Linked DNA regions of Homo sapiens: region 2 is linked to region 1. Evidence: fine-mapped expression QTL. A gene starts in region 1. The other region holds a variant in brackets. All regions are shown on one strand. Distances are from middle to middle.

Evidence for each region. PIP is the estimated chance that this variant, and not a neighbour inherited with it, causes the effect.
Region 2: its variant is fine-mapped to the expression of SYMPK in whole blood (TOPMed, PIP above 0.99). The same link has a PIP of 0.9 or more in T cells and lung.

What each region holds. Positions count from the first base shown.
Region 1 is chr19:45,856,758-45,871,668 of GRCh38, reverse strand. It overlaps SYMPK (symplekin scaffold protein), which reads left to right and starts at 8,522. Exons shown (of 27, transcript NM_004819.3): 1 at 8,522-8,611. It overlaps FOXA3 (forkhead box A3), which reads right to left and starts at 7,343. Exons shown (of 2, transcript NM_004497.3): 1 at 7,144-7,343. The coding sequence starts at 7,212. RefSeq lists a silencer at 7,148-7,557 and enhancers at 8,198-8,607, 8,859-9,497.
Region 2 is chr19:45,812,766-45,827,667 of GRCh38, reverse strand. It overlaps RSPH6A (radial spoke head 6 homolog A), which reads left to right and starts at 12,360. Exons shown (of 6, transcript NM_030785.4): 1 at 12,360-13,141. The coding sequence starts at 12,492. It overlaps SYMPK (symplekin scaffold protein), which reads left to right. Exons shown (of 27, transcript NM_004819.3): 16 at 45-158; 17 at 1,295-1,442; 18 at 2,337-2,497; 19 at 3,793-3,901; 20 at 4,196-4,296; 21 at 4,822-4,912; 22 at 6,183-6,284; 23 at 9,522-9,709; 24 at 10,694-10,870; 25 at 11,091-11,186; 26 at 11,485-11,817; 27 at 11,971-12,258. The coding sequence ends at 12,108. RefSeq lists enhancers at 198-965, 10,617-10,686 and a silencer at 10,367-10,456. The variant C/G (reference allele first, on the strand shown) is at 11,511.

The DNA of each region.
Region 1 (14,911 bases):
TCCGCCTCCTGGGCTCAACCAATTCTCCTGCATCAGCCTCCAGAGCAGCTGGGATTACAGGTGTGTGCCACCACGCCAGCTTTTTTTTTTTTTTTTTTGTATTTTTAGTAGAGACAGGGTTTCTCCATGTTGGCCGGGCTGGTCTTGAACTCCTGACCTCGTGATCTGCCCGCCTCGGCCTCCCAAAGTGCTGAGATTACAGGCATGAGCCACCACACCCGCAATCCTAAGTTATTATTAGCCCTTTTCACTCTCTTTCTCATGAAGTGTACAGTGGAGTTTTCCAGGGGGTGTTGATATTCCAACAGAGAGAATGAAGAAGCAACCAGGAGAATCCAGCTGTCTTCCACTGGGCCAGACTTGATTTGCAAAAATGGAAAAAAACAGTGTCGCTCTTTTGACTAAATTTTTTGAAATTTGGTTTTTTTAATAAAAATCTTTTACACTAACAAATGATTGCTATTTTTAAATGAATACATGTTTGTAATATTTCTCAGTTTTAATTGTAAATACTGTAAACGTAGATAGACATAACCCACATCAACAGAAACTGTTTGGACTCCTAAATAATTTTTTTTTTCTACAGGGTCTCACTCTGTCACTCAGGCTGAAGTGCAGTGGTGCAATCGCAGCTCACTGTAGCCTCAAACTCTGGGGCTCAAGTGATCCTCCTGCCTCAGCCTCCCAAGTAGCTGGGATTATAGGCATGCACCGCACACCCAGCTAATTTTTTTGTATTTTTAGTAGAGACGGGGATTCACCATGTTGCCCAGGCTGTTTTCAAACTCCTGGCCTCGAGTAATCCTCCTGCCTCAGCCTCCCAAAGTAATCCCAGAACTTTGGGAGCCAAGGAGGGTGAATCACTTGAGGTCAGAAGTTCAAGACCAGCCTGGCAACGTGGCAAAACCCTGTTATCTACCAAAAATACAAAAATCAGCCGGCATCGTGGCACAGGACTGTAATCCCAGCTACTCGGGAGGTTGAGGCAGGAGGATCGCTTGAGCCCAGGAGTCTGAGGCTGCGGTGAGCTGAGATCATGCCACTGCACACTCCAGCCAGGACAACAGAGCAAGACTCCATCTCAAAAAAAAAAAAAAAAGAAGGGGGGTGGTCCTGAGACCAAAACATTTAATAACTGCTGGTTTATTAGGTAAATCAGCAGTTCTCAATTTTAGTAATCATAAAGAGTTATTATAGGCCGGGCACGGTGGCTCACACCTGTAATCCCAGCACTTTGGGAGGCCGAGGCAGGTGGATCACAAGGTCAGGAGATCGAGACCATCTTGGCTAACACGGTGAAACCCTGTCTCTACTAAAAATACAAAAACAAAATTAGCCGGGTGTGGTGGCGAACGCCTGTAGTCCCAGCTACTTGGGAGGCTGAGGCAGGAGAATGGCGTGAACCCGGAAGGTGGAGCTTGCAGTGAGCTGAGATCATGCCACTGCACTCCAGCCTGGGCGACAGTGAGATTCTGTCTCAAAAAAAAAAAAAAAAAGTTATTATAACTCTGTAATAATCTAACATATCTAACATATATGTGTAGCTCTCTTCAATCTTTTAGCTTATAAAATTACTGCATTTAGGCTGGGCACAGTGGCTCACACCTGTAATCCCAGCACTTTGGGAGGCCGAGGCAGGTGGATCACTTGAGGTCAGGAGTTCGAGACCAGCCTGGCCAACATGGCAAAACCCTGTCTCTACTAAAAACACAAAAAATAGCCAGGTATGGTGGCGGGCGCCTGTAGTCCCAGCTATTCAGGAGGCTGAGGCAGGAGAATTGCTTGCACCCAGAAGGTGGAGGTTGCAGTGAGCCGAGATTGCACCACTGCCCTCCAGCCTGGGCGACAGAGCAAGACTCTGTCTCAAAAAAAAAAAATAAATAAATAAAAATAAATTACTGTATTTATACATAAAAGTGTTTGAATATCAGAAATCACTTTTCAACCTAATAATATTATCCATTTACTATATATCTTCAAATCTAAGACTTCTCTGGAAGCTGCAGCATTACTTTATATATTAATACAAATGGGAAAAACACTCAGTTAAAATCATAGGACACTGTTGACTGTAAAATGCATCCCATTTTTGGAAATGTTCAAATGGGGGGAAAAGGTGCATCCTAGGTCAATGGAACACGGTAGATCTTGCAGTGCCTCCTAAGTAACCCTCTGTATATTCTTTCATTCATTCAACCAATATTTATCAGTTAGCTGCTCCAAGCACTTCACAAGAATGGTCTCCTTTAATCTTGACAACCATACTATGGGAGGAGGTGTTATGATGATGCCCATTTTACAGCTGAGCTAGCTGAGGCCCAGAGAGGTTGCTGGGGTCACACAGCAAGAATGGGGGCAGAACTGGGATTCTGCAACCAGGCAGTCTGGCTCCAGACCTGTTCCGGGTCACGCTATAAACGCAGTGACTAGGCCAGTTGCGGTGGCTCACGCCTGTAATCCCAGCACTTTGGGAGGCTGAGGTGGGGGGGGTGGGGGTGCGGATCGCTTGAGGTCGGGAGTTCGAGACCAGCCTGACCAACAGGGAGAAACCCCGTCTCCACTAAAAATACAAAATTAGCCGGGCATGGTGGCACATGCCTGCAATCCCAGCTACTAGGGAGGCTGAGGCAGGAGAATTGCTTGAACCCAGGAGGCAGAGGTTGTGGTGAGCCAAGATCGTGCCACTGCCTCCAGCCTGGGCAACAGAGCAAGACTCCATCTCAAAAAATAATAATCATAAAATAAAATAAAAGCAGTGACTAAGACAGACAGAAATGCCTGCCCTCGTGGTGCCAACAGTCTAGCAGGAACACAACAGTGAACAGAACACGCCAGGAAAACATAGGCATGCTGGAAGGTTGTTTCTTTCTTTGTATCTACTTATCCCTTCTCAACCACTGTCTCCCATCCTCTCTGCCCCATTCTCCACCTGGACCTTTCCCCACTGCCTCCTCCGAGGCCTGGGGTCTCATGGCACTGCGTGGGTGGGGGAATGCTGCTATATACAGCACTGGCTAGAGCCACCAAATGTGAGTTAACTGGATACCGCCTAGTCTCCTGCCACTGTAAGCTTTTTTTTTTTTTTTTTTTTAAGAGAGTCTCACTGTATCGCCCAGGCTGGAGTGCAGTGGTGCAATCTCAGCTCACTGCAACTTCTGCCTCCCAGGTTCAAGCGATTCTCCTGCCTCAGCCTCCCGAGCAGCTGGGATTACGGGCACGCACCACAACACTCAGCTAGTTTTTGTATTTTTAGTAAAGACAGGGTTTCACCATGTTGGTCAGGCTAGTCTCGAACTCCTGACCTCAGGTGATCCTCCTGCCTCGGCCTCCCAAAGTGTTGGGATTATAGCCATGAGCCACCATGTCTGGCCCTACCACTGTAAGCTTCTGCAGGTCACAAGGTCCGGAGAAACGAGTCTGGCCAGGGTGGCTTAGGGAATCAGAGAGTGGAGGCAACCAACTCAACCCTAAGTCTGAGTTCCAGTCGAGAAATCCTCTGCTCTTTCCTTTTCATGTCTCTCCAAGGAACTCTTTCATCATGTCTCTTTGAATCTCTGTTGGCTATTTTTGCCGTTGTGTTACCCGTCTCAGTACTAGTACCCATATTCCCCTCTCCCATCTCCCTCCCCACCCCCGCATTGTTTTCCCTTCTGTCTCCACCCTAACCTCTTTTGCTCTTCCTGCCCACCCTCGACCCCTCCCGAGTCCTCTCCCATCTTTCTTTCCCCTCCATCTCGGCCCCTGTCTCTCTCTCCATCCTTCCATCTCTTTCTCCCTTCCTGGGCACTCTCTCTCACTATCCGACTCTACCCCACTCCCCTCCCAACCCCAACTCCCACCTTTCTTCCTCCTTCAGCCCATCTTCTTGTCTTTTTTTTTTTTTTTTTTTGAGATAGAGTCTCACTCTGTCACCCAGGCTGGAGTGCAGTGGCTCCATCTCGGCTCACTGCAACCTCCGCCTCCTGGGTTCAAGCAATTCTCCTGTCTCAGCCTCCCAAGTAACTGGGATTATAGGCATGCACCACCATGCCCAGCTAAGTTTTGTATTTTTAGTAGAGATGGGGTTTCACCATGTTGGCCAGCCTGGTCTTGAACTCCTGACCTCAAGTGATCCACCCTCTTCGGCCTCCCAAAGTGCTGGGATTACAGTCATGAGCTACCATGACGAGCCACCATCTTCCTATCAATCTATCTATCCATCCATCCATGCATCTATCTATCTATCTATCTATCTATCTATCTATCTATCTATCTCCCTCCCTTCAACAAATCCATTCCCCCTCACCCCAAGTCTTACAGTGAAATTGCAGCCACAGTTACTCCCTTCCCCCATGCAGGCTCTCCCGCTGGTTGGTGGCTTCGGGTCCCCTCCCCAGAAAAAGAAAAGGGATGAGGTGAGAAGGTGATGGATTAGAGGGGTCCACAGAGTTTCCAAATCCCCCTATACCTCCACCCCCCATTTCTGCAACCCAGTCAGGCTCTCTGGTATTGCAGAGTAAGACAGACAGGGACCCCAGGGCCCTCCTTTCTGGCTCCCCACCCACCCGGAAGTCCTCCTTGAGGTCCGACCTCAAGCACTCCAGCTGCCCTAATCCACCCTAGGCTTTCCCACGCCCCGGGGCTGGGATGAACCCCTGGTGTCCGGGTCTGAGCCGGATCTCCCCTGACAGGGTGGGGCTGAGATTGGGGGGAAGCCCTTGGGGGACCCGCACCCCCACACCAGGAGACTGGAATTTCTCCTCTTTCATTTCCTTATTGTCTCTGGAGAAGGGTGTGACAGGGAGCAGAGGAAGGCAGTGTGAAGCCAGAAGCCAAGTTTCTAGTCCCAGACCCAACCCAGGACCCCAGTGTTCTGCGTGCGGGGCTTCAGAGTTAACCACCTCTAAAACAGGGGAGCAGCTGGACCAGCTGATCTGCAAGAACCTGAGGCCAACAGGGATATCCCAGGATGGTAACTTTCCAAGTTCTTTCCAGACAGCAAGCTGCCCTGAGTGTTAACGTCACCCCAAGCGGGAGGGTGCTATGGGCAAGAAGTGGTTTGGGGACCCTCTCAGCTCTCAGTTGCTGGCTGAGTGTAGGTATTTCTCTCCCCATTGTTCTGACCCAAGGGGAAGAGGTGGGCTTATCTGATGGGAAGGCTGGGGAGAGCCTCAGACAGTATCACCCAACCATTTCCATTCCTCCAAATACTGACTCTCCCAAAATATGCCCTGAAATGCTGATTACCTCCAGACTGTCCCTCTACTATTATTATTTTTTGAGATAGGGTCTCATTCTGTCACCCAGGCTGGAGTGCCGTGATACGATCACAGCTCCCGGCAGCTCGAACTCCCAGCCTCAAGTGATCCTCCCACCTCAGCCTCCCAACCAAGTAGCTTAGACTACAGGCATGCCTGACTAATTAAAAAAAAATTTTTTTTTTAAAGACAAGGTCTCCCTATGTTGCCCAGGCTGGCCTCAAACTCCTGGGCTCAAGAGATCCTCCCACTTCGACCTCCCAAAGTGCTGGGATTACAAGTGTGAGCCACTGTGCCGGCTTTCCTTCAATTTCTGACACAATTTCCATACAAATTGTCCCCTAAACTTGGATCTATTCAGACTGTGCCCCAAATATCAACTCCTCCTGCCTAGACCCCCATCATTTACTTAAGATGTGCCCCCAAAACAACTGTAGTTGGTTTGTACAATTGGTCTGTAGGTGGTTCCCTTAAATCAGGTCCCCAGACTGAGTTCTGCAGAGGTCCAGCTGGGATCACCCCCACTACCTGGAACCCTCCATTTCCCACCTGGGTCTCTGCCTTCCGCATCTCACAACTGATACCTCCAGCCACCCTGCCTCCACCTCTCAACACTCCCAGTCCCTTTCCCTGTTGGCCCTGCCCCACCCCACGTGCACCTCACACCTCCCCAAACCCAGGACTGGCCCTTCCCAGGCACCTTGCCCAGCCCTGAAGGCCTGGGGATCCAGGAGTCCCACCCTACAGTTTCGAGCCCCAGACCCAAGACTCAGGCACACTGGGGCCCCCGCAGTCACCAGATCTTGACTCCTTGGAGAACCTAGCCATTCCTGCCCCACACCCCACCTCAAGCCCACAGTCCCCTTCCAGGTTAGAAGTCCAAGTGTCCAGACCCCCATAATTCTCAGACCAAGAACCCAACCCCCAGCCCCAACAACCTCACAACGTTGATTACAGAGTGAGGTAGCTAAGGTGTAGGGGTCGTTGCAGCAAGACGAATGGGGGTCAGACTTGAGGAAGGACTTTCTGTCTGTCCAGGTGAGGGGATTAGAATATGCCGCCACCCCCCACTCCAGGGAAGCCTTGTCTGAGGTGAGACTGGATGGGAATTTTAGCAATAGCTGGAGGTTGCTGGACTGGCGGGGAGCAGGGGAAGGTGCACAATCTAAAACTCTCCATCTTCCGACTTGGGGAGTCCCTGCGGAGGGTCATGGGTAGGGATGGGGGGGTGGAGATCGGCCCCTCTCCTGCCAATGCTGATGGCTACATCTTCTGCTCCCAGATGCCCAACTCTAAGCCACCTGTTATTTCAGACTCCAAAAACGAAGCTTCATCTCTGAGCACCCCCATCTCTGACCCCTGAGCACCAATCCCTATGTCTGACCCTACCTTAGATTACCAGCTGATCCTTAGCCCCGAACCCCGGTTCTTTAACACTGTGTGCTGGCCCTGAGCTCCCACCTCAGTCTTCCCCTTAATGGTGACTCCTCCTCCATCTTTTAGTCTTTCTTTCCCTCCAACTTTGAACCTCACATCCTGAAACCCCCTAGTCTGTCCCCTACCCTGGAACTCTGATTCCTATCTTTGGTTTGTACATATAAATCCCTTGCTTTTTGGGGCTCCAACACCCGGCTCCCAAGTTTAAGGTGTGACCCGACCCTTGGCTAAATTTTCCTGACTTCCATTTTTAAGCCCTGGCCGCGGCGAGGCTGCCCAAACAGCGCTCCCATCCATGCCTCGTCCCCGGTCCCCGACTTCCACACCTGGTCTCCGTGTTCCCAGTTCCTCAGCTGCCCAAGTAGACGCCTTTGCCTCCATTTGAACCCACAACCAGTCCCTGCTCCATGTGAGCCCACACCCCGATACCTGCCCCCAACTTCCCGCTCCGCCATCCCCGAGGACACACCTCGCCCGCCTCCGGGTAGTAGCTCCACTCGGCCAGGTCATGGGCCTCCATCTTCACTGAGCCCAGCATCCCCCGGGCTTACGCCCCCACCCGCCCCCGCTCCGGCCCCGGGGGAACGGAGCGCTCTGGATCTCTCAGCGGGCACGGCCCGAGCTCCCACCGGCGCCCGCCCGTCCGACCGCCCGGGGTACGGCTGTCCCGAGCGCCGCGGGAGGCGGCCACGCTTTATAGCCGGGACACCCCCGCCCTCGCCCGCCCCGGGCTCCCCTCCCGCCTCCCCGAGGGCGGCGCGCTCGGACTGGGGCGCCCCCTGCGGGATCGCCAGGAGACAGACCTCAGGCGCCGGGGGCCGCAGCCCCAGGACGCGACAGCTGGGGGTGATTCAGGAGTGAGGGAGCTGCCCGCAGCGACGCTGCAGATACCAAGGGCCCCGAGGTCAGAACTCTGGAGCCTTTCTACCTCAGGGGGCTTCATCATCTCGGCAGGAGAGGACGAAGAGCCAGAGCCCTGCATGACCGTGGCGGAAGAAAGGGGAATCAGAACGCTAGGGCCACTATGCGACTACAAGGACCCGTAAAAGGTCCCCGAAATCACATCCCCATTGGACAGACAGGAAGACTGAGGCTTCCGACGGCTAGAAATGCTTAACTTGGCCGGGCGCGGTGGCTCACGCCTGTAATTCCAGCACTGCAGGAGGCCGAGGCGGGCGGACGAATCACTTGAGGTCAGGAGTTTGAGACCAGCCTGGCCAACAGGGTGAAACCCCATCTCTATTAAAAATACAACAACTAGCTAGGCGTGATGGTGCGTGCCTGTTATCCCAGCTATTCGGGAGGCTGAGGCAGGAGAATCGTTTGAACCTAGGAAGCGGAGGTTGCAGTGAGCCGAGATCGCGCCACTGCAGTCCAGCCTGGGAGAGAGAGCGGGACTCCGTTTCCAAAAAAAAAGAAAGAAAGAAAAGAAAAGAAAAAGAAATGCTTCAGACTGTTGAAAGGGTCAAGAACAAAGATGGAGGGGATCGGGGCCTCTCCGCAGACCCCACTAGGGCAACAGACCACCTCCCCTCCAAGACCCAGGAGCTTCGCTGCCCGAACTCCGCACTCTCCAAGACCAGCCAGCCGTCCAGGGACTCAGCACCACTGAGAACTCCATTTCCCAGAATGCTCTAGCTCCCTTTCCGCCCGGTGCCTCCGAAGGGACTACATTTCCCAGAAGGCCTAGCCGGACCCAGAGCCGGAAATGAAGGGTCTGCTCGCCGTAGTATGGAGGCGGGCAGAATGCCGCTCGCACGGGACGAGGCATGGGCGGGGTCGGGCTGTGCTCTGGACTCCATTTCCCGGCGGCCCTGGGTGTGTGGCGCGTGCGCACCGTTCCCGGCGACGAACGGAAGATGGCGGCGGCGGCGGCGGCGGAGTGTAGGAAGAGGCACTGCTGAGGGGGCGCGAGGGGAACGGAGGCCAGAGCTGCGGTGAGCGGGAGGCGGCGTTTGGGCCCGGAGACGAAAGGAGGAGGCTCCTAAAGAAGCAGGGGCTCGGGCGGGGAGGGCATCGCCGTGGGGAGAGGGGAACAGTGGCTTTCGCGACCCATGTTTCTTCCCTTGCTCAGGACCCTTCCTTGGCTCCCTAGTGCCCTCGAGGCAAAGTTCCAACGTGGCCCCCCGGGCGCCACCGCCCCGCAGACCTCGCTTGCTTCGACTCGGCCTCTTTGCTTTTTCCCCCACCTCTAACAGCCGCCCTGGCCTTTCGGTTCCTTAAACTTGCCATGCGCTTTCCCGCTTCGGGGATTTTGCACAGGCTGTCCCTTCTGCCTGCAACATCCTTTTACCCATTCGGCTTGGCTAACTCCCATTTCATCCTTCGGGTCTCGGCACCAACGTCACTTCCTCTGCGAAGCCCTCCTTCCCTGCCCTCCATCCAGAAATCCGCCTGTTAAATGCTTTTGTCGGTCCGTGTTCCTTCATGTCACGTGTGGTCTAATTTGTTATCCGACTCTTATCTGTGTGCTGTTTTATGATGTCTATGACCGTGTGTTCCATGAAGGTAGGGACTAGGTTTGTCTCTGTCGCCACTGTGTTCTCAGCACAGCGCCAATCACGCCGGAGACGCCCAGCTAATGTTCGTTGAAGGAATAAAAGATACTCCTAGAGCCAGTTTGGGGAAACAGGGTAGTCATCAGATTCCTAGGTAGCAGTGGGGCAGGGTACCACTTCTTAACGAGTACATCGAGAGGGAAGGGGAAACAGTGATACTGTTCATCATAGCAAAAGGCTACACGCATCCCAAATGTTCTTAAATAAGAAGATTGGCTGAAAGAAACTATAATACATCCACATAAAAAATACTATGCAACTCTAAAAAGGAATGAGGTAGATAAAAGGAAATGATGAAAATCTCTATACACTGATATAGTGGCCTCCAACATATATTAAGGGAAAACAAGTGAAGTGGAGGTTGGTGTTTATTGTATATGCTTTTTCTTTTTTTTTTTTTTTGAGACAGGGTCTCACTCTGTCGCCCAGGCTGGCACGATCCCAGTTCACTGCAACCTCCACCTCCCTGGTTCAAGTGATTCTCCCACCCCAGCCTCTCGAGTAGCTGGGATTACAAACGTGCCCCACCACACCCAGGTAATTTTTATATTTTTAGTAGAGACGGGGTTTCTCTGTGTTGGCCAGGCTGGTCTTGAACTCCTGACCTCAAGTGATCTGCCCACCTCAGCCTTCCAAAGTGCAGGGATTACAGGCCTGAGCCACCAAACTCGGCCTGTGTAGGCTCCTTTTTTTTTTTTTTGAGACAGAGTCTCACTCTGTCACCCAGGCTGGAGTGCAGTGGCGTGATCTCGGCTCACTGCAACCTCTGCCTTCCAGGTTCAAGCAATTCGCCTGCCTCAGCCTCCCAGGTAGCTGGGATTACAGGCACACCACCACGCCTGGCTAATTTTTGTATTTTTAGTAGAGATGGGGTTTCACCATGTTGGTCAGGCTGGTCTTGAACTCCTGACCTCGTGATCCACCTGCCTCCGCCTCCCGAAGTGCTGGGATTACAGGCGTGAGTCACCGCTCCCGGCCCTGTGTATGCTCTTTTTGTAAATGAAAGGGAAATATGTATATATGGGTTTTTTTATTTTCATTTTTTTTCCTTTTTTTGCATAAAATCTAGCTCCTGCAGGAGAATTTTGTGTATGTGTGTTTAAAAAAGAACAAAACAAAACTGAAAGCATAAACCAAAAAGCAGAAGAAGAATGAAACAGGGTAAAATATTTTGGTTGATCTGAATGTATTATCATGAAAAAAGTGGAAATGTTTATTATGGGGTTTTATTTTATTTTATTTTATTTTTTGAGGCAGAGTCTCATTCTGTCGCCCAGGCTGGAGTGCAGTGGTGTTGGGATTACAGGTGTGAGCCACCATGCCCGGCCTGTTTTTTTTATGTTTTGACTGGGGACGGCATGCCATGCCGGTTGTCTGGTGGCCAGGATCCTTGGCTTACGTAAACAGACCTGGGGGTAAAAAACAATTCCTTTCAGATAAACAGTACTGTAGCATAGTGGTAAGGAAGATATGCAGCCATGCTGCTGACTCTGCCTCTTACAAGCTATATGCCTTTGGTCAGGTCACTTTACCTCCCTGGTCTTCAGTTTCCTCATCTGTAAAATGAAAATTAAAAATACTAACTCCCAGCCTGGGCAACATGGCGAAACCCTTCTCTACAGAAAGTACAAAAATTAAATGGGGATTCGCCTGTAGTCTCAGCTACTTGGGAAAATGAGGTAGGAGGATCGCCTGAGCCCGGGAGGCAGAGATTGCGGTGAGCTGAGATTGCGGCACTGCACTCCAGCTTGGGCAACAGAGTGACACCCTGTCTCAAAAAAACAAAAAATGTAAACCTAACTCATGTATATTAATTCTAATATATACATATTAATTCATTTAAACCTTGGTGTCTGAGGTTTAAATGAGTTAATATGTATATCTTAGAATTGTGCTTAGCACATATTAAGTGTTCTCTCTCTCTCTTTCTCTTTCTCTCTCTGTGTGTGTGGGTTTTTTTTCTTTTTTTTTTTAATTTGAAACGCAGTTTCACTCTTGTTGCCCACGCTGGAGTGCAATGATGTGACCTCGGCTCACTGCAACCTCCTCCTCCCAAATTCAAGCGATTCTCCTGCCTCAGCCTCCCGAGTAGCTAGGATTACATGTGCCTGCCACCATGCCTGGCTAATTTTTTTGTATTTTTAGTAGAGATGAGGTTTCACCATGTTGGCCAGACTGGTCTCAAACTGCTAACCTCGGGTGATCCACCCGCCTTGGCCTCCCAAAGTGCTGGCATTATAGGCTTGAGCCACCGTGCCCGGCCGTGTTCAATATATATTAACTGATTATTTTTTCTTTTTTTTTTTTGGAAACAGGTTCATCAGGTTCATGCTCTGTTGCCCAGGTTGGACTACGGTGGCCCAATCATACTTCACTACAACCAGGCTCAAACAATCCTCCCACCTTAGCCTCCAGAGTAGCTGGGACTAAAGGTTCATGGCACCATGCCTGGCTAATTTTTTTTTTTTTTTTTTTTTTTTTTTAGATGGAGTCTTACCGTGTCTCCCAGGCTGGAGAGCAGTGGCATGATATCGATGCCCAGCTAATTGTGCATATGTCTAGAGATGGTGTGTCGCTGTGTTGCCCAGGCTGGTTTCAAACTCCTGGCCTCAAGTACTCTTCCTGCTTCAGCCTCCCAAAATGTTGGGATTATAGGCATGAACCCCTGCACCTGGCCTTCTTTTTTAGTTTTTAGGCCTAGGCTAGTCCTGAACTCCTGGCCTCAAGCCATCCTCCCACCTAGACCTACCAAAATGCTGGGTTTACAATTGTGAGCCACTATACCCGTCCTATTTTTGTTTTCTTTCCTTTCTTTGTTTTTGTTTTGTTTTATTTTTGAGACAGAGTCTTGCTCTGTCATCCAGGCTGGAGTGCAGTGGCGCAATCTCGGCTCGCTGCAACGTCTGCCTCCCAGGCTCAGGTAATTCTCATGCCTCAGCCTCCCAAGTAGCTGGGATTACAGGCATCCATCTCCATGCCCAAGTAATTTTTTTGTATTTTTAGCAGAGACTGGGTTTTGCCATGTTGGCCAGGCTGGTCTTGAACTCCTGGCCTCAAGTGATCTGTCCACTTTGGCCTCCCAAAGTGCTGGGATTACAGGAGTGAGCCACCACACCATGCCCTTTTTTTTTTTTTTTTTTAAAGACTTGTCAAGTGCAGTAGTGAGAAAGGGGGAAAAAGTAGAACAAGTATAGCTATTAGGATTCAAGAGTGAAAGGGCAGGAATACTGAACCCAGTGATTGGGGAGGCCGTTTGGCAGTAGTGTTCACTCATTCAGCAGATGTTTATTGAGCTCCTGCTAGGTGCCAAGCACTCTTCCGTGCTGGGAATATAAAAAGTGAAGGAACAAAATCCCTGTTCTAGGCCGGGGGCGATGGCTGAGACTTGTGATCCCAAGCACTTTGGGAGGCCAAGGAGGGTGGATTGCTTGAGTGCAGGAGTTCAAGACCAGCCTGGGCAACATGGCGAAACTCTGCTTCTACCAAAAAATGATTTCAAATAAATAAATCACTGTCCTCGTGGAACTTATAAATATGTAGTGTGTGATGATGATAAATGCTATGGAGAAAAAGCAACACAGATGGGGATCGAGAGGAAGTTAAAATTTGAAATATGGTCGTCGGCCGGGCGCGGTGGCTCATGCCTGTAATCCCAGCACTTTGGGAGGCCAAGGCGGGCGAATCACCTGAGGTCGGGAGTTCGAGATCAGCCTGACCAACATGGAGAAACCCCGTCTCTACTAAAAATACAAAATTAGCCAGGCGTGGTGGCACATGCCTGTAATCCCAGCTACTAGGGAGGCTGAGGCAGGAGAATCGCTTGAACTTGGGAGGCAGAGGTTGCTGTGAGCTGAGATCACGCCATTGCACTCCAGCCTGGGCAATAAGAGGGAAACTCCGTCTCAAAAAAAAAAGAAACATAGTCGTCAGGGAAGACCTTACTGCAGAGACATGTGAGTGGAGACCTGAAGGAAATGAAGAGGGAAGGAGTTGTGCTGATATCTAGGAGGAGGAATATTCCAGGCAGACGGAAGAGAGGCACAAAGTCTTTGAGGAAGGGGCATGTTGGGCATGTTCACAGGACAGCGAGGAGGCCAGAGTGGGTGGAGCAAAGAGCCCAGGGGGAGAGGCAGTCAGAGGAAGAACAGGCCAGATGCCATAAAATCTTGTAGGCCTTGATGGGGACATTGGCCCTGACCCTGAGCAAGATAGGGGGTGACAGGCAGCAGGGAAACTAGGGAGGAGGCTGTGGCTCGTCATTCATTGAGGAGACCCCTATCATGTGATACTACTGTGAATAGCTATTGGGTAGTTCCTTTTAAAAAACGTGTCATTTTCGGCTGGGCGCTGTGGCTCACACCTGTAATCCCAGCAATTTGGGAGGCCAAGGTGGGCAGATCACCTGAGGTCAGGAGTTCGAGACCAGCCTGACCAACATGGTAAAACTTCGTCTCTACTAAAAATACAAAAATTAGCTGGATGTGGTGGCACATACCTGTAATCCCAGCTACTTGGGAGATGAGGCAGGAGAATTGCTTGAACCTGGGAGGGTGGAGGTTGCGGTGAGCTGAGATTGTGCCATTACACTCCAGCCTGGGAAACAAGAGTGAAATTCCATCTAAAAAAAAAAAAAAAAAAGTATTTTCGGCTGGTTGCGGTGGCTCACGCCTGTAATCCCAGCACTTTGGGAGGCCAAGGCGGGCGGATCACGAGGTCAGGAGATCGAGACCATCCTGGCTAACATGGTGAAACCCCGTCTCTACTAAAAATACAAAAAATTAGCCGGGCGTGGTGGCAGGCGCCTGTAGTCCCAGCTACTGGGGAGGCTGAGGCAGGAGAATGGTGTGAACCCAGGAGGCGGAGCTTGCAGTGAGCCACGATCACGCCACTGCACTCCAGCCTGGGCGACAGTGCAAGACTCCATCTCAAAAAAAGAAAAAAGTATCATTTTCACCGTCCTCAGATTATTGTTTTTTTGGCATGTTTGTTTGTTTAGTGTGTGTTTTTTTTTTTTTTTTTTTTTTTTTGAGACAGAGTCTCACTCTGTCGCCCAGGCTCGAGTACAGTGTTGTGATCTCAGCTCACTGCAAGTTCCGCTTCCCGGGTTCATGCCATTCTCCTGCCTCAGCCTCCCGAGTAGCTGGGAATACAGGCGCCCGCCACCATGCCCGGCATATTTTTTTGTATTTTTAGAAGAGACGGGGTTTCACCTTGTTAGCCAGGATGGTCTCGATCTCCTGACCTCCGTGATCCGTCCGCCTTGGCCTCCCAAAGTGCTGGGATTACACGTGTGAGCCACCGCACCCAGCCTTGTTTTGTTTTTAAGACAGTCTCATTCTCGTCCAGGCTGGAGTGCAGTGGCGTGATCTCAGCTCACTGCAGCCTCTGCCTCCCAGGTTCAAGTGATTCTCCCACCTCAGCCTCCCAAGTAGGTGGGATTATAGGTATGCGCCACCATGCCTGTCTAATTTGTATGTTTTTAGTAGGGAACAGTGTTTCTCCATGTTGGCCAGTCTGGTCTCGAACTCCTGACCTCAGGTGTTCTGCCTACCTCAGCCTCCCAAGGTGCTGGGATTACAGATGTGAGCCACTGCACCTGGCCTGTTTGTTTCTGAGACAGGGTGTTGCTCTGTCCGCAGGCTGGAATGCAGTGGTAGGGATCACAGCTCACTGCATCCT
Region 2 (14,902 bases), 44 kb after region 1:
ACACTCAGGTGGGCTGAGCTCGGGTCCCTTTCCTTTTGCTGCAGAGTCGCACCTATCTGGGCATGTCCACACTTCGAGACCTGATCTTCAAGCGCCCGTCCCGCCAGTTCCAGTACCTGCATGTCCTCCTCGACCTCAGCTCCCATGAGAAGGACAAGGTGATCCCCTCCTCCACTTCCTGGCTGCCCTCAGCCTGCAGCTTGCAGAGGCCGCCTCTATCCTGAGTAACCAGCCCACGTCTTCCACACTCCCTTGCAAGTTTCTCTGGGCCCATTCCCTTCTTTCAGTGGTTTTTTGGCTATTTCTGTCTGTTTTATTTTCATTTTCAGTGGCATCAAGCTGCCTAGAAACCAGGGTTACCGTGCCTGAGTCTGCCTGTAGTGTGTACACACACACACGTGCGCTTGCCCTCCTGGGAAGGGCAGTCCCACTCTCGCTCTTAGTCCACCCGTGGTGGCCAGCACAGGCTCCTCGTGCAGCCCAGTCCTGTGCCGGGGCCTGAGGGCATTGCCCAGCCCAGCAGGGGAGCCGGTGTGGCCTCAGCCAGCAGTGAGGACACAGCGTGCTCAGCAGCTGAGCAGAGCAGTGTGTGGCTGCCCTGGGGAGGGAGGGGCCGACCATCTGGTTGTGGGGTGGGCAGGGGAGGTGTTTCAAGGAAGGCTTCTTTCAAGGAGGGGACTTGTACGCTGAGACCTGGAAAATCAGTAGCTGGGTGTGCTCTAGACAGAGGGGACAGATGTGCACGTGCTGTGGTTGAGAGCGCCCTTGACCCATCGTTGCCTGCAGCCTTTTGCCCCAGCCCTTGCTGGGTAGCGTTTTCATTCATTCAGCAGACCTTCATCTCACACCCCTGGCCCTGGCCCTGGCCATGGCCATGTGCTGCTGCTGGGGTCAGAGTGCCCAGGACCAGACCCTTCCCTCACGGCTCCTGGCAGATGATATCTGAGTGAAACAGGGTTTAGCTGGCAGTAGACGTTCTAGGGAGACTTGGCAGGGAGTGGCACTTTTAAGGAACTGAGGAGCTCTCCCTCTGCTTGGAGCTTAGTGAGCAAGGCAAGAAGCAGTGATGGGCAGATGGGCTGGAGAGGCAGGCAGTGAGGTGGTGCTGCGGGTCCGGCCCTGGCCAGGATATCTGCCTCCTGCACTGGGGACCAGCCCTGGGCCCTGGTAACAGCTGGGCTGCCCCTTCTCAGCCTCGGGCTTGTTTTCACGTGAGTGTTGCCATGCTCGCAGGAATAGCTGTTCTTCCTCTTACCTCTTCCCTGACCCTGCCCTTCTCCATCTTCCTCCTCAGGTGCGCTCCCAGGCCCTGCTGTTCATCAAACGCATGTATGAGAAGGAGCAGCTGCGGGAGTATGTGGAGAAATTTGCCCTCAACTACCTGCAGCTCCTGGTGCACCCCAACCCACCGTCTGTGCTGTTTGGAGCTGACAAGGACACAGGTTGGGCACAGGTCATCAGATGCATACTGAGCGCTGCTGTGTCCGCGCTCTGGGCCCTGCGAGCAGAGGGGATGAGTGGGGAAGCCACTCGGACACGAGTGACGGGAATGGGCAGGACTGGGACAGCCACCTGGGGGCTGTGGGAGTCAGGGTAGGGGGCATCTGGCCCAGCCTGGGGGGTCAGGGAGAGAGATCTGGAGGACGAGGAGAGCCAGCCATCGGTGGGGCCTGAGGAAGGACCAGGCAGGGCCATCTCAGGCAGGTTCCCTCAGCAGAGCCCTGGATTACAGACAGGTAGACTCAGACCCCGAGTAAATGGACCATTAAATGGGAAGGCTTGGGCCATGATAGGGCAGCACGGGAGGCCTGGCCCAGGTGCCAGGAAGCATTCCCAGGAGATGCACAGCCTTCGGGAGGCCCAGAAGCTGAGCAGGTGCCGTGGACCAGGCAAAGAGGAGGGTGGATGCAAAGGCAAAGAGACCAGGGCCCTCGGGACTGTTAGAATGGGTATGTGACCAACATGGAGGGCAGCAGAGCAGCAGCGGGCCGGGGCCACCCCATACAACACCTGGCAGACAGTGTGAGGCAGGGAGCTGGGGGTTTATTCTGAGGCCACAGGGCAGGCATGGCTGGGATTGGAGCCAGAGAGGGACAGGGTCAGGATCGCACTTTAGAAAGATCCTTCTAGTTGCCTTGTGTGTTGGCAGTCACGGGAGGCTGGAGGTGGGAAGTCCTGGTCCCCGCCATTTCCCTGCCCTAGAACAATTAGCTCCCCAGCCCCGGCTCCCTTCTCTGCCCTCCCCGGCTCCACTGCCCAAGAAGGGACATTCCTGAGGGTCCGAGGGGGTTGGAGAAGAGTGTGGGCCAATCTGATGCCCGCTCCTGCCCTGTCAGAGGTGGCAGCACCCTGGACGGAGGAGACAGTGAAGCAGTGTCTGTACCTCTACCTGGCCCTCCTGCCTCAGAACCACAAGCTGATCCACGAACTGGCGGCCGTGTACACTGAAGCCATCGCCGACATCAAGCGGACGGTGCTGAGGGTCATTGAGCAGCCGGTGAGGCCCCTGAGCCCACCAGGCCCTGCCCACCCACGGGCAAGGCTGTGTCCCCAGCTCCAGCTCTTCCCCAACCTGCTCCACCTCAGAGTGTGCCAAGCCCGAAGGGTGGTCACCCCGGGCCGACCCAGGCTGTGTAGCTTGCAGGCGGTCCGCATGTCACTCCTGAGGAAACGTCAAGTGGCCCGGCAGTTAGGAGCCTGGAGCTGATAGACCTGGGTTCGCGTTCACTTCTCGCTTTCTCACTGCGACCTTGGGCCCGTCAGTAAAAATGGGGAAGACGTTCCAGTCCCTCCACGCTGATGCAAGGAGTCCATGAACTCAGGCACATAAACCTCTGTGTTACTGTCACTTTATGAGCTGGCCTTCCCAGTGTTGCTAACGGGACTCTTTAGCTGTCATTACATAAACATAAGTCCTTCCTGCCCCTCTCTCTAGAGGCACAGGTCTGCCCACATGAGAAGCAGCTCAGTGACAGACTAGCACCTGAGATTAGAAGGTCTGCTCTTCCAGTTTGCAGCAGGATTTGAAACCACTTTTTTTCTTTCTGCCCCTGACATTTTTGGATTACAGAACATTTTCGTGATAAACGGGAGAGAGAAGTGTATGTTAATCCCCACCTATCTGCCATTTGGGTTCAGTGGGGCCCTTACCTGGAAAATGGGGATAACAGGCTTGTAGTTGGGAGGAAACAGATTTTTAGCCCCATTCTCAAGGTGGTCCAGCTGTGGAAAAGTGATCTCACTTTGCAGAAAAGTTATCTGGCAGGGCTGTGAGCTTCTCGAGGGCAGAGACAGTCGGTTTTAGTCAGGAGCGTAAACGTTACTGGGCAGAGGTGGAGCCTGGCCCTGGCTCCTGTTTGGCATTCACCGCAGAGCAGGCTCAGGAAGCAGCAGCAGGTGGAGCCTGGTCTGGGCTCGCAGCCAAGCCAGCTGCGCCTGAGAAACCGAGTCACGAAGCAGGTGGGTGGAGCCAGAAACATCTTCACCAGTGAACGAAGCACAGGGTGGGCATTCGAGGTCAGGTCAAGTCTGAGCCACAGAGGAGTGGCCCGCAGGAGGACAGCCCAGCCAGGGCTGGGAGCTGGAGCAGGCCCATGTCTGGAGGAGCTGCAGGGAGATGCCAAGGTTCTTCTGACTCTCCTGCCCTTCCCCACCTTTCCCCCGCCCTCCAAACCCTGTCACCTCAGTCTCACCCTGGGCGCCAGCATGCCCCGCAAGCCACCCTGCCGGGCAACACCTGACCCTCCCCTAAGCTCTCACCCTGGGTCTGGTCATCCCTGTCTCTGCCTCTAGATCCGAGGAATGGGCATGAACTCCCCGGAGCTGCTCCTGCTGGTGGAAAATTGTCCCAAGGGAGCAGAGACACTGGTCACGAGATGTCTGCACAGCCTCACAGACAAAGGTGACCCTGGAGACCCCCACCTTTCATGGCTTTCCTCCCTCTCCTTAGCCTTCCCCGGGCCCTGGGGATCTGAGCTGCTGGGTCCCCAGATGGTCGTACCTCTTGCGGGTCTGTGCCTGTCCTAGGGCCTCAGTTTCTCCATTTGGAACAGTGTGGTGCTAATTGCACGTGAGCAGCCAAGGGTGAAGTTGCCATCCCTTCCTGCACACCTGCCTGCTTCTCTTTCCTGGGTGCCCACCCTTTCCCACGCTCCCCTCCGCCTCCAACTTGGTGCCTCCTGCTGCTTCCATGCAGTCCCACCCTCCCCAGAGCTGGTGAAGCGGGTCCGGGATCTCTACCACAAGCGACTGCCAGACGTCCGCTTCCTCATCCCGGTGCTCAATGGGCTGGAGAAGGTATGGAGCTGGAGGCCTGTTTGTCCCTGCTACCTGGGACATGTGGGACTGGGAGGGGCAGGGCAGCACGTTGCTTCAGCAGCAGTTGAGCCAGAGGCACATAGCAGAGGGCAGAAGGCACCTTGCCTGTGGTCAGAAGTCATGGAAGCCGCCGACACCTGGGTACCCTGGAAATGCGGAGCAGCTCCTGGCCTCATTTGCATGGGCACCCGGGTGCCAATGGCTCTGCTGCTTCCTCCTCTACCTCAAGCAGGTCCCTTCCCCTCTTTGAGACTCGCTTTTCTCCTCTGTCAGACAAGGATCAGGATGCCTCTTGGGGGCACACACATGTGACATGCAGGGGGCTCAGATGGGGTGAGAGCTGGGGAGAAAGCTCCGCCCTGAGGGTGTGGTGAGGGTAGGAGGGGCTCAGTGAGCCAGAGCTTGCCCTCAGCTCCCCAGGGCGAGCAGAAGGGGTGGCTTGTCTAGAAGGGAAATGAGGGTGTATGTGACTCAACTCCCACCCCCACCACCTTCTCCCTGTAGAAAGAGGTGATCCAGGCCCTGCCTAAACTCATCAAACTCAACCCCATCGTGGTGAAGGAAGTCTTCAACCGCCTGCTGGGCACCCAGCATGGTAGGTGATGCAGCCTCATCCCCACCAAGAGGCCCACCCACCCCAGGTGCTGGGGCAGAAGGCAAGGTGCAGGCACCCCCCTCAGGGAGAGAGGGCACATCCTGCTCCCTGGGACACCAGCTGTACTGGACATCTCCATGTGTCCCGGAGCTCCCAGGCCACCCTCTGGGATATTTTTATGATGGTTTCATTCACAGCAGGGGCAAGACCGTGGAGCTAGGGGCGGAGGCTCCAGCAGCATCTTCCCTTTTAGGATCTGGCCACACACCAGCCCCTCTCAGGCCCGGCTCCAGTCTGGCCCCTCCTCAGATCTTGCCCGAATCCCTCAAGCTGTGGGCCAGGGGCATTTCGTTTTGACACAGTCAAAAAGAAACAAAACTTGAGGCGAGGCGGGCGGATCACAAGGTCAGGAGATCGAGACCATCCTGGCTAACACAGTGAAACCCCGTCTCTACTAAAAATACAAAAAATTAGCCAGGCGTGGTGGCGGGCGCCTGTAGTCCCAGCTACTCGGGAGGCTGAGGCAGGAGAATGGCATGAACCCGGGAGGCGGAGCTTGCAGTGAGCGGAGATCGTGCCAGTGCACTCCAGCCTGGATGACAGAGTGAGACTCCATCTCAAAAAAAAAAAAAAAAAAAAAGAAGCAAAACTTTCAACTTAGAAAAACTAGCAAGGGATTGTTCACCCTTACCCCAGTGGTTGGTGCTAGAGAAAAAATGGAGGATGTCTGTTCCACGCAGACCCTGGTGGTTTAAAACACACATATAGATGGCTCTGGGACCATCAAAATAGCAGCAGCAAAGAGCCACTCCACCAGCCTCCCCTCCACTCCCCCAGGCCCCACACAGCAGAAGGCTCCAGCCACTTTTTGGAAGCCTGTAGCCTGGCTCCATCTTGCCCTGTGCCACAAATGCCCATGACCCCCTGTGCCGCGGTGGAGTCTGTGTTGGGGACCACACGAGGAGGTGGTCCTACCCTGCCCTCGGGGGTGCACAGCCCAGGGGCAGAGAGACCCAGCCGTGCCACACGCTACCCAGGGTGGGAGCCCAGGATGGGGAGGAGCACACAGTGGCAACCTCACGCTGCCTGAGGGCTGCTGCTGCCTTCGGTGTCCCCTTTTTATGTTGTCAGTCGCTTCCCCTGTTCCAGCCCTGAAAGCAGAGGGCACCTCATCTTTGCTCGCAGCTCCCCCGATCTGGGGAACTCAGACCCATCTCTTCACTTATGCGTCCGCACTGTCTTCCCCCACCCTTCCTCCCGCCTGCTGCAGGTGAGGGAAACTCAGCCTTGTCCCCGCTGAACCCTGGAGAGCTCCTGATCGCATTACACAACATTGACTCCGTGAAGTGCGACATGAAATCCATCATCAAAGGTGAGGCGCTTCCCCCCCACTCCAGTGGCCTGGCCCCTGCGACGCCAGGGCAGGACCTCAGTCACCCACATGCCCCCACTGGAATCTGCCAAGTCAAAGACTGTCACTCACAGCCCCACCTCAGAGCTCTGGAGAGCCACCTCCCTCCCTCCCTCCTTTTCTTGCCTCCTCTTCCCTCCCTCCCTCCCTCCCTCCTCCTTCCTTCCTCCCAGGTTTTACCCTTTACAACCCACCTTTTTCTGCCTCTGATGTACCTGCTGTGCCCTGGCACAGAGTGGGCCTAAAGCAGTTGGGTAGCCCCACCCCTAGCCCCGAGGAACAGAAGGAAGCAGGGCACACCGTGAGTGGTAGAGGCGCAGCAGCAGGGCAGACCCAGGGCTCCAGGGCACTTGTGGGCCAGGGTAGGTGAGGCAGGAGAGCTTGCCTGCAGGGCGGCAGGGTTGGTGACGAACTGGCCGCCTCACGATGGCCCCCACTCACTGAGCACTCTGCGCTGGGCTCTCCCTGAACGCCTACAGGCCTGAGCCTGCTGGTCCGCCACTTGGTGGGTATGTTCACTTCCATTGTGTAGACAGGAAATGGAGGCTCCAGAGAGGTTAGGTGACTTACTCAGGGCCAAGCAGAAGCTAAGTGGTGTGGTAGAAGAAACAGAATCTGAAGTGAAACGGACCTGGGTGGGAATCCCAGCTCTGCCGGTTCCGCGTCTAAGGACCACCTCCCCTGAGAGCGCCCACCCCTCCATCCCTCCTGAGCAAGGTTTCTGGGCCAGGAGCCATCCTGTCCCACGGAGCTGGACACCCTCACTGTCGCCCTCTATACTCAGAAGACTGCTGTCCTTTGATTTCTCTTCTCACCCTCAGACGGGAAGGGGCTTCCTCTCTGTGCTGCTTACTTTCGTGTTCTAGCTTGAAACAGCTTTTCAGTGACTTACTTCCTAACCTTCCTCTGCAAGTTCTCTGAGAAACGTTTAAGGTCAAGAGAGCAGCTTATGGAAATGTCAAACCCACATTATAAAACCCAGGAGGCACCAAGGCCTCTCGTGGGAGACCAGCAGGGAGGAAAGATCTCCAGGCTCATAGGCCAGGGCTGTGGTCTTCACATTCCCCGACCCCTTTGGTGATCTGAGGAAAGTTCTAGCCCATTCCCAGGACAGTATGCTCATATTATTTGCATACAGTTTGAGGGGGTTCACACATACACACACACACCCCAAGGCCATTTGTGGACCCAGATTAGAAGCCCTGAGGATCCTAGGTCCAGAAGAAAGGGCCTTGTCGGAGGCCACACAGGCCACCAGGAGCCAGGCCCCTGAAGATCCTTGGCCCAGGAGAAAGGGCCTTGCCAGAGGCCACACAGGCCACCAGGAGTGAGGCCCCCAGAGGGGTCAGCAGGGCCTACCCTACACCACCCCACCCTTCAACACGCCCAGGCGTGCACGCTGCAGGCCAGACAACCCTCCAGCTGGTGTCCCCAGCACCCAACCCAAGTTTTTCTCCTGCTCAGGCACCAGCAGTCTTCCTGGTTGCACTCTAAGCTCCAGATCACAAAGTCGAGTCCTTTTGTTGTGCACTGTTCACTCCCCCGTAGACCACCCTGTTCCTCTGGGGAGCTTGTCTATAACTAGACCCACTCCTGGTAGTCCAGCATTAAGAAAAGTCAGCACCTCTGCTCACCCATATCCATCCTGGGTAGTGCTGGGGACACAGGAAAGACAGCCCTAGCCCTGTCCTTCCAGGGCTTACAGTCCAGGGAGAGACAAGAAGTCCCTGGCCAGTAACAACTGAGAGGGGTGGCCTGGGACTGGGCAGCCCAGAGGGGCCATGTAACCCAGCCTGGGTGTGGGACATCAGGGAAGACTTCCCGAAAAAGGGGACACTCAGGCTGAGACCAAGGAAGGATGAGTAGGCGGCAGCAGCAGGAGACTGCAGGGACCGAGGGAGGTGCTTGCTGGCTGGTTCTGGACCTAGGGGACGAAGGAGGGGGCCTGGTCAAGGGAGGAGGTCAGGCTGTCGCCATTGGGAAAGGTGCCCCTGGGGCCTGCCCACACAGGAGTCTCGCAGGCCGAGGTGGGAATTTGACCTTGTTTCTTGAGGGTCTCTGGGAGGCAAGTCAGGTCTGAGCTTTCCAAAACACCCTTCAGGCTGCTATATGGAGAATGGATCGGAGGCTCGGGGGAGGCCCAGGTGGGGGGCTGGGGCAAAGCCGACAGGGAAGGAAGAGGGGAGGGGTGATTCTGGAGCCTTGGGGTGGCTGAGCAGGCAGGACCAGTGACCACCTGGCCCTGACGAGGAGCAGGGGCTTCCTCGGTTTCTGGCAGGTCCTCACCTCCACTGTCTGCTCTGCCCATTCAGCCTCCTCCCCACCTGTCTACGCCCCCCCCCTTAGAGACCCCACCCCTGTTCTCCATTAGCCTCTCAAGGATTTGGGGGGTTGGGGTGCTCTTCTGGCTCAATAAAGACTTCCTGGTTGACACTCACATGGCAAGTGGTGTTTGGGGAAGGGCTTCAAAGGCAGCTCCTGGGGCCTCCCATTAGCACTGTGGATTGGGGCATGGCCACCCACTCGGGGAACAGACCCCAGGGCCTGCCTTCATGGGTGCTTGTGCTGTGCCAACCCTCTGGGTCCTACTGGTACTGGCACTGGGTGTTGAGTCGGGGGGTCATCGTATGCCCCGGCCCCAGCCTTCTCTTGTCCCTCCCTTCGCTATTACTCTGATTGTGCCCATATGCCCAACACAGCCCTTAGCCTGGCACCCCCCATCTTCCCAGCACCAGCGCAAGCCCTGTATCCTTGTCAGGACTGGGTGGGCAGTCCCTTGGCCCTCTGACAAGCTGGTCTGTGGACTGCTGTTCTCTCTGGAGGGGCTGGTAGAAACCAATAGCTGCCTTCCCTCCCTAGCAGGGGTGGGGGGCCCTGCCACTCCCCCAGGGCTTGGCAACACATCTTTCCCAAGGTCGTCCTTAAAGTGAGGGGCCACGGGTTCCCTGTTCCACCCATTTTGGGGCTTCCTGGAGTTGGATGTCTTCTCCCTTGAACCAAGCCTGCAGGTTTTCCAAGGGCGGGGCTTGCAGTGTGCCTTCTGCTGGGTCGGGGGAGTCTCCTCTCTCCCGCAGGGGCTTTAGAAGTCAGGGCTTTAGAAGTCTTCCCCTCACATGGGCAGACAGCAGAGGCCGGGACTCCCACCTCCCAGGGGGCAGCTGGGCAGAGAGGACAGGCCCACTCTCCGCCTCCTCGCAGCCACCAACCTGTGCTTTGCGGAGCGGAACGTGTACACGTCAGAGGTGCTGGCCGTGGTGATGCAGCAGCTGATGGAGCAGAGCCCCCTGCCCATGCTGCTCATGAGGACCGTCATCCAGTCCCTGACCATGTACCCCCGCCTGGGGGGCTTCGTCATGAACATCCTGTCCCGCCTCATCATGAAGCAGGTAACCCATCCCCGGCCACCCCGCCTCCAGGCTGCAGACAGCAGCTTCTAGCCTGCTTGCCCTCCCCTTCCCCCGTCTGACCCCGGAGGGAGCCCGGTGGAGGACAGCAGGCTCTGCTCTGCCTCCTGCCAAGAAAATAGCAGTGCTCCAGGGTGTATGACTGGGCCAGCTCCCAGGTGATGAGGGAGGGCAGCTGGGTGGTAGGAGCTGTGGTAACCCTCAAGGGGTGTGCACCCGGGAGAGGCATGGCTGCTCCTCACCCTCCACCGCTGTGTGCCCGGCCAGGATGCATCCCAGAGCTGAAAAATGGCCCAGTTTTTTAAGAGGTGCTAGAAATTTGGGCTTTAGAAATACCACGATAAGGCCAGGTGTGATGGTTCACACCTGTAATGCCAACTCTTTGGGAGGCCGAGACAGGAGGACTGCTTGAGCCCAGGAGTTTGGGGCTGCAGTGAGGAAGAAACGCGCCACTCACTGCACTCTAGCCTGGGCGGCAGAGTAAGACCATCTCTCAAAAAAAAAAAAAAAAAAAAAAAAAAAAGAGAACAAAAAAACCAAACCCCGCAGGACTAATGTCGCCCCCTGGAGGCTGCGGTGAGAATGTACATGTGACCCAGGACAGGTCCCGGCACCGGCACGGACCTCCGCTGTTTAGCAGGGGTAATTTCGCCCCCTGGAGGCTGCCGTGAGAATGTCATGAGAGGTGCTCCCGCAGCACTTAGCCTGGGCCTGGCCCAGGGGGAGCTCTGGTAAAAGGCGGCTGAGTTTTCTTCCACCCCCTTCCCAAGTTGCCCTCGTGGTCCAGCCGCCTGGATCGGGAAGACAAAGGCCTCTGGAGGGAGGTCGGGGCTGCTTGTTGCCCATCCAGAGGAATCTTGGATGGTGGGATTTGGGCATGGTCTTGGCAAGGTCTTTCTCCCAGTGTCAAGGCTCGGGGGGATGCCTGTGTGCCTCTCCCGACGGCTCCCTCCCTCCCTGGTTCAGGTGTGGAAGTACCCCAAGGTGTGGGAGGGCTTCATCAAGTGCTGCCAGCGCACAAAGCCCCAGAGCTTCCAGGTCATCCTGCAGCTGCCGCCCCAGCAGCTGGGAGCCGTCTTTGACAAGTGCCCAGAGCTCCGGGAGCCCCTGCTGGCCCATGTCCGCTCCTTCACCCCCCACCAGGTACCCCTTCCCCCCACCAGGTACCCTTTCCCCCCACCCAGGGTGTGCGGTGGGCGGCCCCCTGGGTCCCTCTGGTTGGTGGGGACTGGATGGAGGCGGACACAAGAAGGCCCTGCACTGCTGGGAGTTCTGGAGGGTTAGGGCCCCCGGACCTGAGGTGTGCAAATGGGGTCTCTGTGCCAGAGCTGCCCCCAGCGCCCCCTTCCTGCTCTCCACCCAGCAAGCTCACATCCCTAACTCCATCATGACCATCTTGGAGGCCAGCGGCAAGCAGGAGCCAGAGGCCAAGGAGGCGCCTGCGGGGCCCTTGGAGGAGGTGAGGGCCCTGCAGCCCACCCATCTGGATCCCCAGACTCCCACCCCCTACCCCAAGCCAGCAAGGCTCACCATGGCCTCCTCCTGACCCCGAGAGACTCAGGCCACCCCTGCCTCTGGGCCACCCGTCTCCCAGGGGATGCTCCTGCTGGGAGTTGGGGGTCTGGGGGACAACTGCCCCTTCCTCCCCATGCTCTTGGTGAAGAACTCAAAGACCACCTCAGGGTGGTTCCTTCTCTTTCCGGCCGTCCTCTGAGCCACCCACCTCTGAGCTTCTGTGTGGCCCTCCCTATCCCCAGGATGATCTGGAGCCCCTGACCTTGGC[C/G]CCGGCCCCAGCACCCCGGCCCCCTCAGGACCTCATCGGCCTGCGACTGGCCCAGGAGAAGGCCTTAAAGCGGCAGCTGGAGGAGGAACAGAAGCTGAAGCCGGGAGGAGTGGGAGCCCCCTCCTCTTCCTCCCCCTCTCCCTCTCCGTCGGCCCGGCCAGGCCCGCCCCCGTCTGAGGAAGCCATGGATTTCCGGGAGGAGGGGCCTGAGTGCGAGACCCCGGGCATCTTCATCAGCATGGATGACGACTCGGGGCTGACCGAGGCCGCGCTGTTGGACTCTAGTCTCGAGGGCCCCCTACCCAAGGTAGGGAGAGCAGCCTCCGCTGCGAAGGAAGAAGCCGGATCTGGGCCGGGGTGAAGGTGGGGGAGGAGGGGCCATCAGGGGGCAGGGCCTGAAGGGGAGCGTGGAGGTGACCGCGCCCTCCACCCGGCTGCCCTTTCCTTCCCCGGTCACCAGGAGACGGCAGCGGGCGGGCTGACCTTGAAGGAGGAGCGGAGCCCCCAGACCCTCGCACCTGTTGGAGAAGATGCTATGAAGACTCCCAGCCCGGCTGCCGAGGACGCCAGGGAACCCGAGGCCAAGGGGAACAGCTGACGGGGCTCGAGGGGGAAAGGGGGTGGGACAGGGACTCGGGGCTGGGGGACGGGGCGGGGCTTGACCTGCGGGTGCTTTGCCTTAAAAAGAAATAAAAGATGTGAACTTGGGCAAGTTACTGAAAAGAAAAAAAAAAAGGGATGGCGGGCCTGGGGCGCGGGTGCCGTCTCGAGTCTGGCGCGACGTCCACCGTGGGGCTGCGCGGGATCGGGAGTGCGCGCCCAGAGCCTGCGCGGAACCCACCCTGGCCCGCTCCCCGCGCCCTCCACGGGTAACGGCCCCCTCTCTCGGTGCTCAGAAACCGGCGGTGTCGACAGGTGGCTCTCGCTTGGCCTCCTTGTCTGCAAGCCTTTCTCCTAGAGATCTGTGCCTCCTGGCGAACCATGGGAGACCTGCCGCCCTACCCTGAGCGCCCTGCCCAGCAGCCTCCGGGCCGGAGGACTTCTCAGGCCTCCCAGAGGCGGCACAGTCGGGACCAAGCTCAGGCCCTGGCAGCGGACCCCGAGGAGAGGCAGCAGATACCTCCAGACGCCCAGCGAAACGCCCCTGGTTGGTCACAGAGGGGCAGCCTGTCCCAACAGGAGAACTTGCTGATGCCCCAGGTCTTCCAGGCTGAGGAAGCCCGGCTGGGTGGCATGGAGTACCCATCTGTGAACACGGGCTTTCCCTCAGAGTTCCAGCCTCAGCCTTACTCTGATGAAAGCAGGATGCAGGTCGCCGAGCTCACCACCAGCCTAATGCTGCAGCGGCTCCAGCAGGGCCAAAGCAGCCTGTTCCAGCAACTGGACCCCACCTTCCAGGAGCCCCCAGTCAACCCCTTGGGCCAGTTCAACCTCTACCAGACAGACCAGTTCTCTGAAGGTGCCCAGCACGGGCCTTACATAAGGGATGACCCTGCCCTTCAGTTCTTGCCCTCTGAGCTGGGCTTCCCACACTACAGTGCCCAGGTGCCTGAGCCCGAGCCTCTGGAGCTGGCCGTGCAGAACGCCAAGGCCTACCTGCTGCAGACCAGCATCAATTGCGACCTCAGCCTGTGAGCAGGGGCTAGGAGTGGGGCGGGTGGGGGACCCAGGCAGGGAGGGGCCCCACCCGAAGTGCCTGCCTCAGTCAGTCAGACAAGGGATCATCCCTCATGGAAAACCAGTGACTCTAATTCAGCTGAGTCGGAATCAATGCCAACAACAGCTAGCATTCACTTCCCAGACATGTGCTGGCACTGCACACACTCACCTAATTCTCACCGGAGATGAGCACATCAGCTCATCCTACTTTACAGAGGAGGAGACCGAGACACAGAGAAGTTGGGTCGCTTACCCAAAACTACACAGCTAGGATATGGCAGAGTCAGGATTCCAGAACACGTGATTTGGCTCCCCAAGCCCTCTTGCTTTTTTTTTCCCCCAGACATAGTCTCACCCTGTCACCCAGGCTGGAGCACAGTGGCGTGGTCTTGGCTTAGGGCAACCTCTCCTTCCCAAGTTCAAGTGATTCTTCTGCTTCAGCCTCCCGAGTAGTTGGGGTTACAGGCGCGCTCCACTTCACCCAGCTAATTTTTGTATTTTTAGTAGAGGCAAGATTTCACCATGTTGCCCAGGCTAGTCTCAAACTCGACCTCAAGTGATCCGCCCATCTCAGCCTCCCAAAGTGCTAGGATTGCAGGCATGAACCACCGTGCCCAGCCCTCCTGAGACCCTCTTATCCTGCAACTAAACCTCCCTGCCTGAGGAAGATACTTGCCAAAGCCACTTAGCTACAGTCACAAAACACTGCTCTCAGCCTCCATTAGATACCCAGGATGCTCTCATTCTAGGAGAGTGGACAAGAAACAGAAAAAGTGATAAACTGAAGCTAAGGACTCAGGTGAAAAATAAGGGAGGCTAAGAGGGCTAGGGAACACATGAAATAGTGGGGGTCCAACCAGGTGCGGTGGCTCACGCCTGTTATCCCAGCACTTGAGGAGGCCAAGACGGGCGGATCACCTGAGGTCAGGAGTTCGAGACCAGCCTTGCCAACATGGCGAAACCCTGTCTCTACTAAAAAATACAAAAATTATCAGGGCATGGTAGCATGGGCCTGTAATCCCAGCTCCTCGGGAGGTTGAGGCAGGAGAATCACTTGAACCCGGGCGGCAGAGGTTGCAGTGAGCCGAGATCGTGCCACTGCACTCCAGCCTGGGCAACAGAGCGAGACTCCATCTCAAAAAAATAAATTGTGTGGGTCAGTGAAGGCCTGTCCAAGGAGGTGACATTTGATTAGGGCCCTGAAGGAGTCGAGGGAGAGCATCTTGCAGATGACCGGAGGAAGAGTGAGCCAGGCAGAGCACACTGCAAATGCAAAGGCTCTGAGGCTTGCTGTTTTTGAGGAGCAGTAAGGAGGGGCTGGTGTGTCTGGAACCAAGGGAGGAAGAGGGAGAGCGGGAGAAATGAGGTTGATGAAGTAATGGTTCTTATTAAAGCACAAAGCTGGCCGTGTCCCTCCAATGCTCAGAACCTGCTATGGCTCCCCATTGCCCACAGGGGGAAGCTCAGACTCCTCACCACAACCTTCAAGGCTCCTGGCCTGAGACATATAAGGCCTTGCTCATGCCTGTGATCCCAGCACTTTGGGAGGCTGAGGCAGACAGATAACTCGAAGTCAGGAGTTCAAGACCAGCCTGGCCAACATGGCAAAACCCTGTCTCTACTAAAAATACAAAAAGTTAGCCAGGCGTGGTGGCACACGCCTGTGATCTCAGCTACTCGGGAGGCTGAGGCAGGAGAATCACTTGAACCGGGAGGCAGAGGCTGCAGTGAGC